3 separate regions of the Homo sapiens genome follow, and regions 1 and 3 are each linked to region 2. Evidence: fine-mapped expression QTL. A gene starts in region 2. Each other region holds a variant in brackets. All regions are shown on one strand. Distances are from middle to middle.

Region 1 (4,243 bases), 160 kb after region 2:
AGAAGATAGACATACCCATAACACAACGTGGATTCAAATGCTTGTCGGAATGAGATAGGAAATAATTTTGAGAAAAAAAGACACACACAAGCAAGTTATAATGCAGAGCATGACAAATTCCAGAAATGAGGATTAAACAAAGGGCTGAGGGGATTGGGGAAAGCTTCTTGGGGAAAATCTAATTATGAATTGAGCCTTGAGGGCTCAGTGAAATTTTAATGGGCAGAGATATGGGAGAACAGTTTTGCCTGTGATGATCTTGTTATCCCAACCAGATGGCAGGTTGGTGAAGAGTGGGGCATTGCCTCACATTGCATTTAGATCTCCCCAGAGCGCCCTGCCAGAGTTTTGCAGTAGAAGGTGCTCAATAATGTTTGTTGAGCCCAATTAATAATATATGGTTGGCTGGCACACAGTGAGGGAGACACCGGGTCTGTGTGCTTGCTTTAACCTCTGAATTGAAGGGCAGTCTAAGCTTTTTACTCATTCCTCTGATTGTGTGTACTGCCAGTTTGCAGTCACAGTTTTCTCACTTTACTAAATCGGTCTGGACTGAAACTAGTCGTTTAGAGCCAAAATGGTAGATAAATGGGGGCTAACACTTTAACTTACATCTGACCTCCTTGTCACTTATTCCAATTCCCCCGAGCTTTCAAACAGCACAAACAGGCCACAGGGACAAGAAATGACATGGGAATTAGAAGACACTTATCAGAAGGTGCTTTCCTTTTATTTGCAACTCACACATATAGGCCTTTGTTTGACAATCTTGCTAGAGCCTTAGGAATTTTTGTCTTCATTCCACAGGTAAGGAGACAGGAATTCAGAGAGGGTACTTATTCAAGGTTATATAGCAAGTAAATTGGAAAAGTCATGACTAGAACTTCTCTTTTCTATCTCCCAAGTGAACGTCTTCTTTTTATTCGCAGTTGGCCCACCCATATCAAATGTCATCTTCCATTGCTTTGTGACAGATCTACTCAATTCTTTGGTATCCACATCCTACATCTGAAAAGTAGAGAAAAGGTAAACTTGGAGGTCATATGAAGTATGGAGAAGATAAGTTAGGGAACAAAAACCAAAGGGTTGGTGATATTAATATCTATAATGATATTAACATTCATAATGATGATGATAAGAGTCACCATTTAATTTTTAATCTATATAGGCAGGCTGTCTGCTAAATGTATTACATATATTATCACATTTAATCTGCACAACATACGTGTATGGTTGCTATTTTTATCTCCGTTTTATAGATGAGAAAACTGAGATCAAACAGATGAACTTGTCCAAGGTCATATTGCTAAGTAGAAAGCAGCTGGAATTTGAATCCAGACCTAACTTCTAACCCTCTTAACTTAATCATTGCACTACAAAGTTCTGGTTCATGCCAACTTAGCTTAGATGACCTTAGACAAGTCGCTACAACTTCTATTTATTTTTTATTTTTAGAGACAGCCAAGGCTGGAGTGCAGTGGTGTATCAGAGCTCACTGCATCTTCAAACTCCTGGGCTCAAGGGATCCTCCCACCTCAGCCTCTCAAGTAGCTGGGACTACAATCATGAGCCACCATGCCTGGCCCCCAAAATCCTATTTATGTAGACTGTTTTTCCCAAAATTAATACTTTGCTCACCTCTTGGTAAACTGATAAATGTGAGAATTATTTGTAAGCAGCAAAGTGGTATACAGATATATAATGTTGTGTGCATTTAAACTGAAATTTCTCAGTCAGATGAGAGATATATACCAGCAACAGAGTGATGTCTGGCACTAAGCAGGTGCTCAATAATGTGGCTTATATTCATTCCATGAATGAATTTAAGACTTCCTTTGCTGAAGATGCTTTTTTATTGCCACATATGGAAATGGGTGGTAAAGAGAAAGAAGGCAGGCCGTATGTCAGCTTCCTGAGCAAAAGTCCCCACACCCACTAATTTCCCTACCCCCTTAATATTCTAGGGCATTAATGGGATGTAGCTAGGGAAGAAACCACCTTAGAAAAAGTAGAGTCGAAGTAGATGTTGAATTCTCCAAATTCTTCCATCCATGCTCCACTTGCATTTAGCCATCTGGAGAGTTTTACATTGAATAATTTTTCTTCCAAATGATATATAGTCATTATAGAAAAAGTTAAATAAAAAAAGAAATAGAAAGGGAAAAAAATTCACATCACCCATAATCTTTCCCCTCTC[C/T]CTTCACCCCCAGAGATAACCTAACCATTAGGCATGTCCGTCTGTTTCTTTTTCTTCAAAGCATTTTTTACATGTTTGAATTCATACTGATACACGAAAGGTAATACTTTACTTTTCCACTGACCATCAAGGAATTTTCTCATGAACTTACAAACTCTTCATGAACATTCATTCTTAATTCAGCTGACAAATACACATCTTCTCTGTGCCAGGTGATGGGGACACAGTAGTGAGCCAGACTCATTGAGTTTCCAATTGACCTTATGTTTAATGGCTGTATGGTATTTTATTGTCCACTTATCAATTGTCCCCTTTGGGTCTATTTTGCAGGTAGCAGGCTTTCTTGCTAGTAAAATGCTCCCCAACTGTATATCCCCTTGATAATGCCCTAGAATATTAAATAGCATACAAAAGAAACCAGTATTAGCAACATAAATGTGTGACAACACACACACTCATTGTAAATGAAATCAAACGTAATAAAATTGTGAATTCTCCTGTATTTGGGGGCAGAGATTTCATCAGTTCCTACTTGTTTATTAACATCAATTCTTGAGAGTTCGCTATGTAACAAGACAAAATCCAGCTACTCCCGAACCTACCTTTCCTCTTTTTCTTATTTTGTTGGGAAATCTAAGTTAGAAAAACAATCTACCTGCCTGGTTGCCGTGACATGTCTAAAGGGTAGGATGGGGAAGAGGAGGCACAGGTATTCTCTGTGAGTTTCCTGAGTACTTGGCAGTCTTCCTACCTCCTCCCCTGTCCTGTTCGTCCTGTGCTCTGGAGCCAGCCAGGCATGTGACACACGCCACCCTTGCAGGCTCAGTCTCTGGTAGGATGTGGGTTTTTGTGTGTTGTGGTCCTGGTTTCAGCTGCAGGGCCTTATTATGGAATGTATAGGAGGAAACGGAAGGACCTCCCTCCCGCTCACACCAGTCCTGTCACAGATGCCCCAGGTCACCTCCTGGCCTCAGGGCCTGTCTGCATTTGGAACTGCTGGATTAATTTTCACATCATTCTGATGTTCCCCAAGCTCCTCTGAAATTAGGTTATTTAAAAAAGAAGGCCAAAGTTTAAAGACTTCTGTCCAGGGCACTGCTACCTATGAACTGGCTGGCTATGGATTTGTTCTGGAAACTGTATTCAATTTCATTTTCTCAGCACCTGCCATGCTAGAGCCTGGCTCATTATAGGCATCCAGGTGATGTCTGTTGAATGAGTGTATACCCTGGGAGGTACCTTACTGAGCCCATCCTCACTGGGCTTTCAATCCAGTAACTGTGCACTTCACAAAGAAAGGGACTGGGACTTATTATCCGGGTCTCCCTGTGGTCAAGCTTAGTGCCTGGCACCTACTGAGCATTCAGAAACCTTCTTAGATAAAAAAAATGAATTCTGCATACCCACACAATGGCATATCATTCAGCTGTAAAAAGGAATGAATTTCTAACACATGCTACAGTATGGAAGAACCTTGACAACATTATGCAGGGTGAAATAAGCCAGACACAAAAGGACTATTACTATCTGATTCCACTTACATGAAGTACCTAGAATCGTTGAATTCATAGAGACAAAGTATAATAGTGGTTACTAGGGACTGGGGGAGAAGGAATGGAGGAGTTAGTGTTAAATGTGTATAGACCTTCTATTTAGGATGATGACAAGAATTTGGAGATGGATAGTGGTGGTGAAAGTAATCGGAAGTAATGGCAAAAACCGCAGTTACTTTTGCACCAACCTAATACTTACTGCTACTGAATTATAGCTTAAAAGTGGTTAAAATGGTAAATTTTGTGTTATGTATATTTTACCACAATAAAAAGACTGCCATGAAAAAAGGAAAAGAGAAGACAAATATCCCTTTTCTTTACGTCTACTTCTCTCCATCTGTTAAGCCTCCCTTTTTCTTTCAAACCTGGATGATGGGAACTGTGAGATTCCTCTTTGAAGAATTCTCACTGCTGAGGATTGGACATTAGTGCAGGTCCCACTGGGGGCTGCTAAGTTCACCGCGTTTCCTCTCCTCAGGGTCCCAGGGCTGAG
Region 2 (4,243 bases):
TATGGGAGATGGGATAGACATGGTTCACATCCAATAATTTTAAATTAAGCTTTTAGTGTAGGTAGCTGTATTTGTAGACAATATGATTTAACAAAATGCAATATGTTCAAATCCACGTAAAGAGAATTATTTGAAAAGTGAGTGTCTTTTTGTTCCTGGTTTATTATTTAAATTCATTTTCATATCTCCAGCTTGCTAGTAGCCTAATGAAAATAAAATTTCATAATCCAAATATAACTTGGTCACTATTGGATAATTGATCTATCAGCAGGTTGACTTCTTCCAGCACTACAAATTACAATTTTAAGCCTTTTTACCTCAATTTTCCCCACTCAGTAAAATGGTATACAAATTTCCATCAACTTTGTAATGGATAACCCACTTGATTTTTTATGGCATTAAGTATCCTGTAAAATGTACCACTAAAGTAGAAAGCATTATTATTTACTGTCTGGGTGCACATATTTAGATTCAGAATCATGTTCAAACTAGTTTGTCTGTTTTGTTTGACTGCAATTTTTTTTAAAGAAGGAAACCACAGAAATTATTTGGCTGGTGATGCTTTTTTTTTTTTGAACTGATTAAATCAGCCCAAATCAGTCTAAAAATTCAAACTATTAAGATATGAGGAATGTAGTACTCAGTCACAGAGTAAAGGAAACAAAACCAAGCATTTCTTCAAAAACGTGATTCTAGTCAGTGTTCGCTGATGGGCTAGAAAACAAAAGAAAACAAAATTTAAAGGTGCCTCTATGCCCCCATCTTTGGCATCCTTTAATGTCAATGTCACTTGTTCTGATTTGTGCTGGGCAAGGAAAGACACTGTCCTTTCCACCCCAGCACATTTGACAAGCACTGACACTCTGGGCATGCTGTAAAATAAAATAAATACATTAGTAAGACCATTTCCCTTTTCATTTCAGCCTAGGCATAAGAGATGGGTTACTTAAAATTCAAGTGCCAGGAAAGCCCATTGTAAAAGGGAAATATTTTCAAGTGAATTCCGTTTGATCTTTTTTTATAGGGGCTCCTACAAGCCTCTCTCCCTTCCTCCCCAGACCCTGGAAACCAATTAGTCTCAGCACAGAGGCCACAGACCAGGTTGCAATGGCTCCTTTTTATTTTTAGGGGGTATAATTTCAGCCAGGATGTCTAGTCAGTTGTCACATAGTATACTTAGCACACTTCTCTCTCACACACATATATATACATTGGATTTCCCTTCAGAGAATGCACAGATCTTTCAGTCTGACTCCTAGAAAGGAATTAGATCTGGTTGCTGTCCCAATCTTTCAGCAATGACAATGGCATAACATCACAGGGCCACCTCATCTTTCACAGACAACCCTGCCAACCAAGTTTTCTAAAAGCCTTCTCTCCCTTGTTTTCTGTCTTCCAGCATTTCAGCGGCATTTCCTTTCCTTGTGTTGTTTGTACAAAATTCTGAAAACCTTTTCTTCCATTTTCCAAAGTAGCAGACAAAACTGGACTAAGTTTGATTTTTAAAATGCTTTTGACATGCTTATCTTTTGGGGAAAATTTTATCCAAAAGACGAAAATGGAAACAATTAGAGTCTTTGCCTCTCCTCACCTTCCTGTCCTGAATCTGCCTTAATTCATGGAGGTAAAAAAAATGATCAGCTGGGTTGGCCTTTTCTTTCTCAGCAACATTGCAGAGAGAAAGAGGTGAGTGTGTGAGTGAGTGAGTGAGCGTGTGTGTGTGTGTGTGTGTCTGTCGTGTTGAAAGGCTTGGGGAAAAAGGAGCACAGCTCTCCCCCAGGAAAGCCTCAGATCAGCAGATGGGAGGGAACCTAGGGTCGCCTTCCTAGGTCTGAGCGAAGTGTCCCAGCCGCTCCCCTTACCCCTGCGGTGAGCCCTGCGTCCTGGAACGGTGCCAGGACTCCTGACAGAGCCTGGCAGGTCGGTGGGTGGCGGGGAGCTGGGTGTTCTCTTTGCAGAAGAACACCATTTGGGAGAAAGCTCCCTTCTTTTCCTGGGGCACCGTAGCCCGCCTTCCTTCCCCTATCATTTTTTACGCAGATCGCACTCATGATGATGAACTTGCAGCTCAGCTTCCTGCCGCCTGCTTGACCCGGGAGCACCAGCAGGCTACCGGGCCTCGCCCTCGGCTCCCTCCTCCTCTCGAAACCCTGGGGCTTCGGGGCACCGGTGGGGGTCCGAGTGGGCAGGGACTGCGGGAGGGGCGTGCAGGGGCGCGGGGTCCCGCCGGGGAGCGCGCACGGAGCGGCGCCTCGGCCGCCCTGCTTCCTGGAGCTGTGCTCCTTTGACCCCAGTGGCAGTCCCTGTCACTGCACCGCTCGCTCTCCCTCCGGCTCGCCGCGCCCTCGCTCCCTCTCCTCGCCCCCTCGCTCGCTCTCTCCCCAGATCGAGGCTGCTCGGGTCCTTTCTCCCCCCGCCTCCCTCTAGCGCCGCGCCCCCTGGCCCCCAGCCCCAGCCTGCGGCGGGACCTCCGGGGTCGAAGGTTCTGGCCCGCTCGCGCCCCTCGCCGCCCCCGCGCGCCCCCAGCGCTCCTCCAGCCGGCTCGGGCCGCTCGGCTATGGATCGCCTGCTCGCCGGGCGCTGAAGGCATCCCCGGGATCCGGAGCGCAGCCCGGGAAAGGTAATCCGCCCCGGGAAGGGAGGCGGAGGGCGGGGGAGGGGGAGGAGGCGGCCGGGAGCCCGGTGCCGAGCACTAGAGGAAGGGAAAAAAATGCACACACAAAGCGGAGCCCGGGTGAGAGGTGCCTTGTCAGAGGCGCGTGCGAGGGGCTCGGAGGCTGCGGACCCGGGCTGCCCCGGTGCCCCTGACATCCGCACGAGCGGGCGCCTCCCGGGCAATTCGGCGCTCGGGGAGGGCTGATTTTCAACCCCTGAGCGAAAGCAAATTCTTTTTTAGGAGGTGTCTTCCCTCCGACTCCCCATCCTGCGCCTCTTCTCTTCTCCACCCCCTCCAGCCATCAGTCCCCCGACCTCTGGGGGTCCCCACCTCTTCGCTCCCTCCTCCGCCAGGATTTCTTAGGAGGAGAGGAGGGGGTATCGGCGAGAAGCTGGGGAAGCCGGGCGGCGGGGATGGGGGTGGGGACGAGGGCTCAGCGAGCTGTTTACTAGAAAGTCCCGGGGTGATGTGTTCGAGCCGCCCCGGCCTAGGCCTGGGTGCATTGTGTTGGCCCGATCCCCGGGCTCCCGCGGCGGCCCGAGGCCAGGTGCAGTGACGAGGGGAAGGCACCGCGCAGCTTTGTGCTCCGGCTGCGCCCCGCGGCCGCCCCCGGGGCCGCCCGCGCGCGCCGCTCTCGCTCGGGGCTCTTTCTCACCCCGTCCCCGCGCCCCAACCTCACTCTCCGCCGCTGCCTGGGTCTCCGCGCTCGCAGCCTGCGGAGCGACCCGGCGACCCAAGCTGGGGTCGAGGCTAGGCGACGGGGGACGAGTACCGAGGAAAAGTAACCGTTGCCGCCGGATTTCTTCTCTACAGAGGCAGGAGTTTCTTTGCTATTTACGTATAACAAGGTTATCTTTGTAAAGCCTTTGAATTCCGGGGTTTTGCGGCCTAGGAGGTGAAGGGGGCATTTTTCTAGAGGCTCAGGAGCCGGTTGGAATCCGTCAGCAAGAAAATAAATTAAGGATGCCCCAGTGAAGTTGATTTATAATAGTACATCACCACCCCCCTCTCACACACACACCCCAAATTAAGTGCAAATGCGGGTCATGAAAAATGTATAATTGATTTGAGATGCTGCAAACAAACACAAACAGGTCGGGGGGGTGGGACAAACAAAAGTTTAAGTGAAAAAAGATGTCAGAAGAGGGGGAGATCCCGTGGCCTCCACACCCCCTTCCAACGCTCGCTGGCTCCCTCCCTTCCTTTCTCCGCCGTTCCAGGGAAGGAACCTGGCAGCGCCCAGGCGTAGAGCAGGGAGGAGGCGGCGGCCCCGGGCTCGGGCTCAGCGCTGTGGGTTCGGGGATGCCAACGCGCCCGGGAGGCTGAGGTCGGGGACGTGGGGCTGTGATGCCCGACCGAGGATGGCGTGGTGTCAGAGCCATTGGCCGCCGGTGGTCATCAATCAATCCAGAGCTAGGGAAGAGGGAGAGAAAAAAGATAGGCGTCCAGCGGAGCCCGGGGCCGCCAGCGCTAGCGCCAGCAGTGCCAGCAGGAGCGGCGGCCGAGGAGGTGACGGAGGTGGCAACGGGGGACTGAGCGAGTAAGGCGCTGGTGTTTCAGGAAGGAAGGGGAAGTTGTAGCCGGGAA
Region 3 (4,243 bases), 37 kb after region 2:
AACTAGAATTCATAAATTTATTAGATATTTTAAAAGGAATTTATTTGAAATCAGGAGAAAACTTACAATTTTTCAACTTAGCATTGAGTTTGTGTAGACAAAAGCATTGGACAGGGAGGGACTATAGGTAAGCTGAGGAATTCTATTCCTCTTATAACAGAGGCCTCATGATTTATAGCATCTCTGACTATGGGGAAATTATGTAACCTTGTAAGTCCAGTATTTCTCATCTGTAAAATGGGATTAATAATACCTACCTTATAGGGTTCTCTCAAGGAATGGATGAGGTAATGTTCATAAAGTGCTTGGCATGGTGCCTAAGCGTGGGAATAGTGTTCATTGATGTTAGTGATTATTTTTATTACTGGGGGTTAGGAAGTATAGAGTGTGGATCCAGTTCTGCTGCTAACATTGGCCATGAACAAGTCACTCAACCCTTCTTGTTCTTAGACTCCAATGGGAATAATTACAATGCCCTTTTTACTGATAAGATGAGAATGAATTGAAATTATGTATGAGTCAACTTTTTGAAAAAGTATGAAAGATTCTACCAATATACATGATAAAGATGGAAGGGAATAGCAGGCAGGTCAGAGGGGCAAAGTAGTTAACTTTCTTTGGGTTTAAGTCCTAACTGGGACTTAAACACAAGTCCAGTTTGCATAGAACAAGTTGAGTGAATTATACTCAATCACTTGTGAGAAAACACTGTAACTCAGAAACCCAGCATTACTGCTACCAAATTTTCCTGATGTTTGGCCTCTCATCATGAAGGGGCCTGAACTGGACCTGGCGGGAGATTTTATTGCATTTTTTCCCCAGGCTGTGCTTTCTGGTTAGTAAAGTGTCCCGGACAGACCTGGCTGAGGTTTTACTCTTTCACTCCGGAATGAGAGGAGAATGGAAATAGCTCATTTCTTCAGCCGTGCAAGCCGTGGAAACATCAAATGTGTGTGTGAACTTGTCCATACCCTTCAGGCCAAGTGCTTTTAAAAATTACCTGCTTCCTAAATTGCCACCAGTGCTCTGGGAAGTTTTGCTGTGGTAAACTCCCATCAAAATTCCTGACTATTCTCACATCCCCTCTGCAAGGCCATAATGGGAGTACTGACGGGCTTTGGCTCTGGAAGCAAACATTTAAGAGTCAGGGCAAACAAAGAAAAATTATATTCTAGTCCTGCTGCAGTCATTGAAATGGGTTCAAGATACTCAGTGTGTTTCCTAGTATAGATGACATGCTACAGCAGGGGTGGGAAAGACACAATGATTTCTTTGGAACCAGGGGCTGATTTGTTGTTGGAGATTATAAATCTTTTCACTGACTGTTTCTCAGGCTACCATTCACCCTAGATTCCTACAGGAATCACATTGCCTCCACGGAACAGCGCCAGCCCCAGTGCTAATCAAATTTAATCTATCAGCGAGGACTGCTTTCCTACAATGGACATTGGGGGGCATTGCCCATTAAAATGTTGAGTCATTAGCACTGTCTTCAAAGCAAATCTGAAGGCTTGATAGGTGCTACTATCTTATTATTATTTTAAAAAAGCAATTGATATGGGAGTGGGAAGAGGGGCTGATTTGAACTTAACATGCCCCCTTGGCCACCCCTCCCCAAAAGATGATTTAAAAACAAGCAGTGAGCCAGAGAATTTTCAAGGCTAACTTTCTCACGTGGAAGAGAAAAATTATTGCAATGCCCTTTAGCTAAGTACACTCACTTCAGCCTTTATCGATG[G/A]CGGCAGTCACGTGTGCACCTCTTCATGAGGAAGAGAGCTTGAAACAATCACAGGGCAGAACCTCCAGAGACTAGAGCTGGGATGAGCTCTAATAGTAGGGCACAGGGAGTACCTGTGAGGTTTTTGTTTTTGTTTTTAGGAGAAGGCTTTTTGAGGAAGTAATCTTCCTGCCCAAAATTGAAAGTTAAATCTTTTCCATCTTATCCATCATTGCTCTTAACAGAGACAGTTGATATTCCTGAGTTATAGGAGACCTGCAAGTCTCTACAGTAGGCAACTTTGTAGAACTCATATGTATAGATAGTGGGCCTTTTACAGTTTAGCATTCACTTGAGCATATGAAGGAATAAAAAGGAGCAAACAGATGGGATTATGCAAACATGGTGCATTAAGAGTTTCTAGTAAACTTTTAGCAAATGTTGACACAGAATTGAGAATTATCTGAAGTTTATTCTCCTGTCCAAAGTATCCAAGAAAGCAATTGATTGGAAATAGAGCAGGGGAAATTTTGATGTGAACCATAACAAGACTAATAAAATGTAGAAATGACATATAACCAGGTACAGAAAGAAAGCAGTTACGTCCAGGATAAGAGCAAGGATGTAATTGGCTTTGTGTGTTATTTTCATGTGTGTATAGGGATGCATATGCGTACACACTGAATGGGAGCTAACTGTTAAAGTATGTTGTATAAAGTTCGATCTGTATAAAATGTGGTTTGTACTTTGAACTCATATTTTTTTGTTGCTTATAAAGTTTAGAATAAAATAACCACTTATTCCTGAAGGGTATTTGAACTGGTGAGTAGTCACAACTGTAGTCATGATGATTTGGTGTCTAGATTTTTATGTAAATTGGTACCTGGATAATGCATTCCTATTTGGCTTTAGTAATCTTCATACAACTGTGAAGTAGAGAGGCACAAGCTTTAACAAATTTAGAAAAATTCAGGTCACCTGACAAACGCAGTGTCCCCCTGGGAATTAACCTCTTTGTAAATTTGGCACTATGACTCACCTTTGTTGATCCTTTCATGACTCTCTCCCTCTTCAATTTAAATTGTTTCTTTTATGTCTAATGACATTACTCCAGTTCTTTGCTTGGTGACCTAACCTTTCAAGTCCCAGGTAAAATGCACCTTCTTTTGTGAAGATCTACCCATTTTTAAATAGAACTAATTTCTTTCATCAATATTTCTCATAGAAGAATCTCAATAATGATGGCTAACACTTACTGAGCATTCGATATGCACTGGGCCCTTTACAAGCAATAGTTACTTAAGCTGGGCATGGTGGCTAACACCTGTAATCCCAGTGCTTTGGGAGACCAAGGTGGGAGAATCACTTGAGGCCAAGAATTGGAGACCAGCCTGGGCAACATAGCAAGTCCCTGTCTGTACAAAAAATCAGAAAATAAAAACAAGCTGGGTGTGGTGGCACATGCCTGTAGTCCCAGCTACTTGGGAGACTGAGGTGGGAGAATCCCTGGAACCCAGGAGTTCAAGGCTGCAGTGAGCTATGATCGCACCTTTACACTCCAGGCTGGGAGAGAGAGAGACCCCGTCAGTTAAGAAAAAAAAAAGATAGTTACTTAATTTTTGTGTTGATAGTCAATCTTATGAGGCAAGTACTATTATTATCCCTAGTTTATAGATGAGGTAAATGAAGCTTTGAGAGGTTTAGTAAACTTGTCCAGAGTGTCATACCCAGGTAGTGGGAAAGCCATGGTCCAAAGCCAGGTCTTGTGGATTCTGTAAGTGACCTCACTGTTTGCTGAAGTGACCTCTTAATCACTTTATTCTTTCTCCATTCTCCCTCCCCAGTATGTACATAGGTATATATAATTTGTGGTCACATTGATTACAGTTTGGTATGTATGCCCTCCCAAATGAAAGTGTGAGGTTCAAGATAGTAAAAATGGCATCTTCGTAACCTCTGCAAAAGAATATTTTTTTTAAAATTGACTCAAATACAGATATGCAAACACCTGTCAGAAAATTTACTTAGGTTGTTAATGAATGAGGGAACCAAGAAAGTTGTTGTAACAGATTTGTAGAACCATGAATTTATATGGAATAAAAAAATGCTGAAATTAATTTGCAAATGGATCAAAAGTGGAGGGGAAGTCGATTGAACCTCCACTGGACATAATTTATTTGCATCTGTAGACAAAAATTATTTGCATTGCTTTTCATTATCTATAAGTTACAAAGTTATACAATACAAAGAACATAGGCTCATGGTTTAGATAGGCCAGAATCCAGATTCTAACTTCCAAGCTTAATGTTTGACCTTAAGTGAAGTTTGGAGAATTCAGAATATCACACACACATAGCCATACACAAACATCACACAGAGATTTTGAGAAGATTAAAGGTAATAATTTAGAAAAAGCCCCTGGCACATAGTAAATACTGCTAAATATTAGGCGTGATTGTTAGTAGTAATAAAGCTTCTATCAGAGCTCTAACATTTAGTTATTGCTTAGTAAATGTTTGTTGAGTG

Which allele goes with the higher level. Positions count from the first base shown, and alleles are read on the strand shown. Sizes are in standard deviations (SD) of each study's normalised expression. Not every link is listed here.
In carriers of allele T in region 1, the expression in esophagus muscle of the gene that starts at base 2,309 in region 2 tends to be higher than with C alone (large effect, 0.85 SD a copy in GTEx).

The links. PIP is the estimated chance that this variant, and not a neighbour inherited with it, causes the effect.
Region 1: its variant is fine-mapped to the expression of MPPED2 in esophagus muscle (GTEx, PIP above 0.99).
Region 3: its variant is fine-mapped to the expression of MPPED2 in adrenal gland (GTEx, PIP above 0.99).

The regions. Positions count from the first base shown.
Region 1 is chr11:30,425,734-30,429,976 of GRCh38, reverse strand. The region is part of intron 4 of MPPED2 (metallophosphoesterase domain containing 2); the gene reads left to right. Among named protein-coding and RNA genes, the nearest start is that of ARL14EP, 100 kb to the right of the region's middle. The variant C/T (reference allele first, on the strand shown) is at 2,198.
Region 2 is chr11:30,584,419-30,588,661 of GRCh38, reverse strand. It overlaps MPPED2 (metallophosphoesterase domain containing 2), which reads left to right and starts at 2,309. Exons shown (of 7, transcript NM_001584.3): 1 at 2,309-2,620. The region is part of intron 1 of MPPED2-AS1 (MPPED2 antisense RNA 1); the gene reads right to left. RefSeq lists a silencer at 2,355-2,404.
Region 3 is chr11:30,547,296-30,551,538 of GRCh38, reverse strand. The region is part of intron 2 of MPPED2 (metallophosphoesterase domain containing 2); the gene reads left to right. Among named protein-coding and RNA genes, the nearest start is that of MPPED2-AS1, 35 kb to the left of the region's middle. RefSeq lists an enhancer at 4,075-4,243. The variant G/A (reference allele first, on the strand shown) is at 1,739.